Homo sapiens: one gene and its partner. The protein of the gene in region 2 purifies or fractionates together with the protein of the main gene of each other region. This does not show direct contact. Each region holds a gene or a part of one and is shown on either strand. Other genes may lie near its edges.

Region 1 (3,500 bases), on a different chromosome or scaffold from region 2:
CCTTTAGTGCATTTTATAATAGGGAAGTATGTTACTCAGCATGCATTGTTGATGCCCTACATATAAATGAATAAGAATAAAAATACATCTTTATAGTACTTATTATTCTACAAACAAGTGATTTTGAAAGTGTTTACAATGAAGTGTACAGCAAGAAATATGACTTAAAAAAGCTTATGTTACAAACAAAAATTGAATTTGCACAACAGAAAAAGCAGAGCTACTTGATATGGGGCCTACATCTTTGTCTGTGATTCAGCCTTATTCCAGTCCCCAGTCGGCTATAGGTTTTCAAGTACCTTTGCAAATGAGAAGTTTGAAACCTATGGTATAGAAGGAAAGGATTTAGGAGGATTCAGAATTAGAATATCTGAATTCTTGTCTCAGGTACACCACTTACAGGCTATGTAACTTTGAGCCTGTATTTTCTCAGAGGGTAATGGTGAAGATTAAATAAAAATAATGTATTTGCAAGCAATACCTGTTATCGCCATTTTGGACTTTCAGTAGCCACTCCCTCCTTTCTTCACCCTGAAGTCATAGCCTTACACAACTTATGCTAAAGAAGCTCGTCATGGGTTAGGGACTAATAACACACAGTAGATGATGAACAGCAACTTACTGATTCCATAAACAGGCTGAGGAAAGTTGTGCTGCCCTTGGCTATACTGATATGAGACATCCATGCCTATGAGCTTTGTATATGTTAAAACTTGAATTTTGTAGGATATACAAGTTTGTGGTTTCTATGTTAGGTACAGAATTTGTAATTTAAAAACTTGCCATACATTCATGTGCTTGCATAGTAAATGGCACAGACTATTTCAACATGAGCTCTGCTTAAAAACCAGTGTTTTAATTGTTTTTCTACAAAATGGAAAACAGGATAACTGACTCATGAAAAAACTTTAGAGCAAAAGCAACTTAATCATCAAGCAAATCCAAGTACAAATGATATCCTAAAAAGAATCCAATGCTTCAAAAGATATATCGAGTTCCCTTTGATTAGAAAGATGACTTAAGATTTGAGTTCATTTTTATTTCTTGTATCTTTTCTAAGGCAAAGGTTGACAAACTATGGCCAGTGAGCCAAATCTGATTCATTGCCTGTGTGTGTAAATAAAGTTTTATTGGTGCACAGCCATGCCCACTTGTTTATGTATTGTCTGTGGTTGTTTTGTGCTACATAGCAGAGTTGAGTAGTTGTGACACAGCCCATATAGCCCACAAAGCCTCAAGTATTATCTGACCCTTCACAGAGAAAGTCTGCCGACTCCTGTTCTAAGGCATCAAAGAACCAGAAGACCTCAATTCATCATAGCTGACCTGAAGGAGGCAGAGGGTGAAACAAACTCGGCATGAAAAACATTTTGAGGCACAGGAGAGGATATAGACAACATCGTCATGTTTATCTCAACTCTTTTAAAATTCTACTTTCTTTTTTTTTTTTTTTTTTCTGAGACAGAGTCTAGCTCTGTCGCCCAGGCTGGAGTACAGTGGCGGATCTCGGCTCACTGCAAACTCTGCCTCCCGGGTTCAAGTGATTCTCTTGCCTCGGCCTCCTAAGTAGCTGGGATTACAGGCATGCGCCACCACGCCCAGCTAATTTTTGTATTTTTAGTAGAGACGGGGTTTCACTGTGTTGGACAGGCTGGTCTCGAACTCCTGACCTTGTGATCTGCCCGCCTCGGCCTCCCAAAGTGCTGGGATTACAAGCATGAGCCACCGCACCTGGCCTAAAACTCTACTTTCAAGTCACATAGGTATCTAGGATTTTGGTTCTTGCAACCTTTTCGATGACATATGAAAAAAATTCCTAAGAGTAAAGTTAATGATATAAAATGTATTTTATTTTATTTTTTGAGACAGAGTTTCAACTCTGTCACCCAGGCTGGAGTGCAGTGGTGCGATCTCCGCTCACTGCAACCTCTGCCTCAGAATCAAGTGATTCTTGTGCCTCAGCCTCCTGAGTACCTGGAATTACAGGCACGTGCCACTATGCCCAACTCATTTTTGTATTTTTAGTAGAGATAGGGGTTTCACCATGTTGGCCAGGCTGGTCTTGAACTTCTGACCTCAAGTGATCCAACTGCCTTGGCCTCCCAAAGTGCTGGGATTACGGGTGTGAGCCACTATGCCCAGTCTAAAATGTATTTTAAATTGCTCACTTGAAGTCAGTAGAAAAAGATCTATTCACAGAATGAACTATATCTTACAACATTCCAAATCTAAAATTATTTAGACATCCACTCACCTGAACAATTGAATGTACACCAACTGTCTGCATAGCTTGGCTTTCATCATCTGAGGTAATAGCAACAAAACTAAACCCCCGAAAAAGCTGATGTGCATTAGCACTAGGTGGAATGCCAGGTGAATCTGAAAAGAGTAAGAAGTGACAAAGAAGATTCATTTGAAAGGAAATTAAGGGAAAAACTGTTGACACTATGACCTTTTTCACTTATTCTGGAATTCTATTTCTCAGGTACACAGTATATACCTCTTGCTTTCCAGGATACCTGTGAGGCACTGTATCAGATCTGTTCTGATTGTGTATTGCCATTACAACACCAACATCCTAGTCCCTCGGAGCCTAGAAAATAGCTAATTCATTTGAAGACTATAATACATCGATGAATTATAGGGTTAATGGTATTCAAAATTAATGCTGTCCCATGGAATTTCCTGAAATGATGGAAATTTTCTTTAACTTTACAGTCTGATAGCCACTAGCTACATGCAGCTTTTCGACATTTGAAACGTGCCTAGCGTGACTGAGAAACTACACTTTAAATTTTAATTAATTTAAATTTAATTAGCCACATGTGGCTACTGGCTACCATATTAGAAACTGCAGCCCTCAATAATAACCTAGTTGGGGTGGAACAGGGGAGATACAAGGTTGATCTACAGCAAATTTAGGAGATGTGAAGATAGCTTAGAGAGTTATCCAGGAAAAGATTTTCTTTTTTTCTTTTTGAGACAGAGTGTCGCTCTGTCACCCAGGCTGGAGTGCAGTGGTGCAATTTTGATGCACTGCAACCTCCACCTCCCAGGTTCAAGCGATTCTCGTGCCTCAGCCACCCAAGTAGCTGGGATTACAGGCACATGCCACCAAACCTGGCTAATTTTGGTATTTTTAGTAGAGACAGCGTTTCACTATGTTGGCCAAGCTGGTCTCCAACTCCTGGCCTCAAGCGATCTGCTCGCCTCAGCCTCCCAAAGTGCTGGGATTACAAGTGTGAGCCACCGCGCCCAGAGTCTGGAAAAGATTTTCTGATGAAACAAGAAAAAAACATATTTGTTGTCTTATATTTGGATTTTCACATTTTCTCCTTACCTTTGGGAGTTTTTGCAGTAAACTCAGGATCAAAATAGAATGTATCTTCAGGCCTGCCCGTTGCAGGTTTAAATGGCGGATGAATTTCTCTTCTATACAGTTTCTGGAGGGGAAAAAAAAAAGAGACTTAGACATATTTTAATTATAAAGAAATATTTCA
Region 2 (5,200 bases):
CCTTTGCAGTAACATCTTTCTGGCAAACCATGGAAGGGACAATACTGAGGAGATCCTCCCGACCCAAAAGAAATAGACTGCAGCACTGATTGGCCAACTCTGGATATCACCTTTTGTCGGAACTCAGAGTTATAAGCGACCCTCACCCTGACGCTTTCTGACTGAGCTCCTCTCTATCCTGAATACAAGAGACCCTAATAATTAGACAGGAATATCATTGCCCCTATTCAGCATGAAAAAGTTTACAGAAGATGGATCTTTGTCCCTCTGCAACCCTTAGGATTAAGGGTTCTTTTATAAAAGGGAGAGGGGAAATGTCACAGGTGTTTGAACTAGAGCAACTTCATCTTAAGTAGGGGCTGGGTAAAATAAGGCTGGGACGTACTGGACTGCATTCCCAAGAAGTTAGACATTCTAAGTCACAGGATAAGATAGGAGATCAGCACAAGATACAGGTCATAAAGACCTTGCTGATAAAACAAGCTGTGGTAAAGAAGCCAGCTAAGACCCACCAAAACCAAGATGGTGATGAGTGACCGCTGGTCGTCATTGCTGCTCATTATATGCTAATTATAATGCATCAACATGCTAAAAGACATACCCATCAGCACCATGACAGTTTACAAATGCCATGGCAACGTCATTTTACCCTATATGGTCTAAAATGAGGAGGCATGAATAACCCACCCCTTGTTTAGCATACGATCAAGAAATAACCACAAAAAGGGGCAACCAGCAGCCCCTGGGGCAGCTCTGCCTATGGAGTAGGCATTCTTTATTCCTTTACTTTCTTAATAAACTTCCTTTCACTAAAAAAAAAAAAAAAAAAAAAAAAAAGAATGTAAGTTAGTATAGCCATGAAGGAAAACAGGATAGGGGCTCTTTAAAAAATTAAAAATTGGCAGGGAACAGCGGCTCATGCCTGCAATCCCAGCACTTTGGGAGGCCGAGGTGGGCAGATCACCTGAGGTCAGGAGTTCGAGACCAGCCTGGCCAACATGGAGAAACCCCGTCTCTACTAAAAATACAAAATTAGTCAGGCGTGGTGGCACATGCCTGTAATCCCAGCTACTCAGGAGGCTAAGGCAGGAAAATCACTTGAACCCAGGAGGCGGAAGTTGCAGTGAGCTGAGATCGTGCCATTGCACTCCAGCCTGGGCAACTAAGTGAGACTCCGAATCAAAAAAAAAAAAAAAAAAAATTAAAAATAGAACCATCCTATGATTCAGCAATTCCTCTTCTGGGTATATACCAAAGGAAATGAAATCAGTAGCTTAAAGACATATCTGCACTCCCATGCTCAGTGCAGCATTATTCACAATAACCAAGATAAGGAAATAACCCCATTGCCAGATGAACGGATAAATTGTGATACATATTTAAAATCACACTGGGCATGGTGGCTCATGCCAGGCGTGGTGGCTCACGCCTATAATCCCACACTTTGGAAGGCTGAGGCGGGTGGATCGCCTGAGCTCAGGAGTTCAAGACCAGCCTGGCCAACATGGTGAAACCCTGTCTCTACTAAAAATACAAAAAAATTAACTGGGTGTGGTAGCGCATGCCTCTAGTCCCAGCTACTTGGGAGGGTGAGGCAGGAGAATCGCTTGAGCTCCAGGGGCGAAGGTTGCAGTGAACCAAGATCGTGTCACTGCACTCCAACTTGGGCTACAGAGTGAGACTCCATCTCGAAAAAATAATAATAATAAAATAAATTCACATTACGTCACAATTATTTTTAGTGCTCTCTCTCTCTCTCTATATATATATAAAGTATACATAGTACAGATTATGTAGAATATTCTATATATTTATTCTATATATTCTATACTATATGTATTCTTTGTGTGTGTATATTCATCCACACACACACATAGCAAAGAAAGCAAAGTACAAAAGAGTACCTCTAATGTGCTACCTTTTGTGTATGAAAGAAGAATAAGAAATATACAAGTACCTATTCATTTGTGGAAAAAGAAACACAGGAAGCAAAAACCAGAAACAAATCAGACTGGCTACCCACAGGAGATGGACAAAACTGGGTGGGAAGGAGGCACTGGAAACAGAGTACACAGGATGGGGAGCAGTAACACTTCTGAGTATCTGTTTTTGTAAAATTCTGATGTTTAGAACCATGTTTGTGTTTTGCCTAATCAAAATAAAATTTTAAAATCAGCAAGGATGGGGGAAATAAAACCCAAATGAATACAAACACAAACAAATGAATCTGTTATTTTAAATGAGTATCATAACCACACTGAAGGAGGGTGAAGGAAAGGTAGAACTGACCCAAGTAACTTTTGAACACAGTATTCTGACTATACTCTCACGCTGAATATAAAAACAACTGTAAAAAAATTCTGAGCTCTAATTAGAAGGTTTATTTTCCACAGAGGTATGGATTTACAAATCTGAAACTACTATTATTAGAATACTAAGTGTATTCTATGATGAGCAATTAGATAAACATTGTGGATAATGGGAGTCAAATTTCTTACTGTCAGAGAACAAATACAAATATGGAAAGGGAGAAGGCAGAAATGAACCCTGTGGTATTAGACTATAATTAAAGTATCTGGATGAACTTATTATTATGTAGACAGACAGATACAGAACTAGATATGTGCACAGACATATATACAAACATGTATTTCCCAGCACTGGCCTCTGAGAGGGCCTAGAAGCAATGATACACCAGTAGCAACAAGCACACCTGGCACTCAGATCTTGGTTTCTAAATACCATTTACCACTAAATGGAACCAGGGCTTTTGGTTGGTACTGCCGTCTTCCAGTAATTCACCAAAACGACAAACACAGGGAAAGAGAAGAATTACCCAATATATGTTCTCTAGGCCTTTTAGAAAACATGGAGTTGTTCCTTGGGCCACGTGCATGCAAATCTATAAGAAAGGCAATACTGTAGACATCAAGCGAACGGGTACTATTCAAAAAGGAATGCCCAAAAGCATTACCTGGGAAAAACTGGAAGAGTCTACAATGTTACCCAGCATGTTGTTGGCACTGCTGTAAACAAATTAAGGGCAAAATTCTTGCCAAGAGAATTAACGTGCACATTGAGCACATTAAGCGCTCTAAGACCCAAGATAGCTTCTGAAATGCATGAAAGAAGATGATCAGAAAAAGAAGGAAGCCAAAGAGAAAGGTACCTGGTTTCAGCTGAAGCACCAGCCTACTCCACCCAGGGAATCCCACTGTGTGAGAACCAACGGGAAGGAGCCTGAGCTGCTGGAACCTATTCCCTATGAATTCATGGCATGATAGGTATAAAAAAATAAAAGACCTCTGGACTGCAAAATTGTTTCTCTTTATTTAGTAGAGAAGTGTGGTGTCCTCTCCCCCAAAAAAATATTTAAAGCAGATTTTAATTGTGTCCTAACTCATTGTGTAATGTCTTTACTGTTCAGACTTAGTATTTTTCTTGCTGAAAGATGTGAGGTGGCTTATCGTGCAACAAATTACTCAACTGGTTAGAAAACAATCAGATATTATTTATGAAATACTTGTACTGGTTTGAAGATAGTCCTTCTAAATCATAAAAAAAAGTTTACAAAAAATAAAAAACAGGCCGGGCACGGTGGCACATGCCTGCAATCCCAGCACTTTGGGAGGCCGAGGCATTTGGATCACTTGAGCCCAGGAGTTCAAGACCAGCCTGGCCAACACAGTGAAACCCCGTCTCTACAAAAAATACAAAAATTAGCTGAATGTGGTGGTGTGCTACACTGGAGACTGAGGTGGGAGGATTGTTTGACCTTGGAGGGGCCGAGATTGCAGTGAGCCAAGAAAGCACCACTGCACTCCGGCCTGGGCAACAGAGCAGGACCCTGTCTCAAAAATTAATAATAAACAGATAAACAATAATGGAACCAGGCCTCCTTCAGAGAAATGGCTGGTTCCAGAGCACAGCCAGGGGAAGTATGAGTCTGGAACACTTTGCTATGCCAGAAAGTAATGAAGTATTCAAAGAATAATGAGGGCATATCAAAAGGTCACGGAAAGGGATTCCCACCAGCCATCTGCAATTATTTTAGCATCAAAATAAATAATGAGGCTGGGTACAATGGCTCATGCCTGTAATCCCAGCACTTTGGGAGGCCAAGGCAGGTGTATCATGAGGTCAGGAGATCCAGACCATCCTGGCTAACATGGTAAAACCTCATCTCTACTAAAAACACAAAAAATTAGCCAGGCGTGGTGGCGGGTGCCTGTAGTCTCAGCTACTTGGGAGGCTGAGGCAGAAGAATGGCATGAACCCAGGAGACAGAGCTTGCAGTGAGCCGAGATCGCACCACTGTACTCCAGCCTGGGCGACAGAGCAAGACTCTGTCTCAAAAAAAAAAAAAAAAAAAAAATTAGCCAGCCGTGGTGGCACACACCTGTAGTCCCAGCTATTTGGGAGGCTGAAACAGGAGAATCACTTGAACCCGAACCCAGGTGGTGGAGGTTGCAGTGAGCTGAGATCGTGCCACTGCACTCCAGCCTGGGTGACAGAGTGAGACTCCGTCTCAATAAAAAAATAAAATAAAGGCCGGGTACAGTGGCTCACACTTGTAATCCCAGCACTTTGGGAGGCCAACGTGGGTGGATTGTGAAGTCAGGAGTTTGAGACCAGCCTGGCCAACACAGTGAAACTCTGTCTCTACTAAAAATACAAAAATTAGCTGGGCATGGTGGCGGGCACCTGTAATCCCAGCTACTCAGGAGGCTGAGGCGGGGGAATCGCTTAAACCTGGGAGGCAGAGGATGCAGTGAGCCGAGATCGTGCCACTGCACTACCGTCTGGGGGACAGAGCTAGACTCCGTCTCAAAAAATAAGTAAGTAAATAAATAAAAATAAAAAATAAATAAATAATGATAGTATTGGATTATAACACATAGAATGAAATAAGAATCCATGGGTCCATACTGATATAAATAAATGAATGGAAAACAAACAGGGGTGAAGGGCAAGTTCTTTCTTACAGTAGAAGGTGAACAAATATAGAAGAAATGATGGAATTGGAAAATCACCATTTGCAACCCCATAATAAAAATTGTTTTCAGCAAGAATCGTCAGTGGTGATAGAAGTATTTACTGCATGAAAGTTTGATGAGGAACAGGATAGTCTCAAAATACCTCCTACAAGATCTTATTAACCACAAAGTAAAAAACAGTAACTTTACAGTGAGGACTTACC

The links. The genes of interacting proteins can lie anywhere in the genome.
Region 1: the proteins of ALDH9A1 (region 2) and RPS6KA3 fractionate together in Homo sapiens (co-fractionation; one large-scale study listed by BioGRID). This does not show direct contact.

The regions. Positions count from the first base shown.
Region 1 is NC_000023.11:20,172,910-20,176,409, forward strand, and holds part of RPS6KA3 (ribosomal protein S6 kinase alpha-3), read right to left. Parts: intron 3,444-3,500; coding exon 3,341-3,443; intron 2,380-3,340; coding exon 2,255-2,379; intron 1-2,254. UniProt on the Homo sapiens protein: Serine/threonine-protein kinase that acts downstream of ERK (MAPK1/ERK2 and MAPK3/ERK1) signaling and mediates mitogenic and stress-induced activation of the transcription factors CREB1, ETV1/ER81 and NR4A1/NUR77, regulates translation through RPS6 and EIF4B phosphorylation, and mediates cellular proliferation, survival, and differentiation by modulating mTOR signaling and repressing pro-apoptotic function of BAD and DAPK1.
Region 2 is NC_000001.11:165,673,505-165,678,704, forward strand, and holds part of ALDH9A1 (4-trimethylaminobutyraldehyde dehydrogenase isoform 1 precursor), read right to left. Parts: intron 1-5,200. UniProt on the Homo sapiens protein: Converts gamma-trimethylaminobutyraldehyde into gamma-butyrobetaine with high efficiency (in vitro). Can catalyze the irreversible oxidation of a broad range of aldehydes to the corresponding acids in an NAD-dependent reaction, but with low efficiency.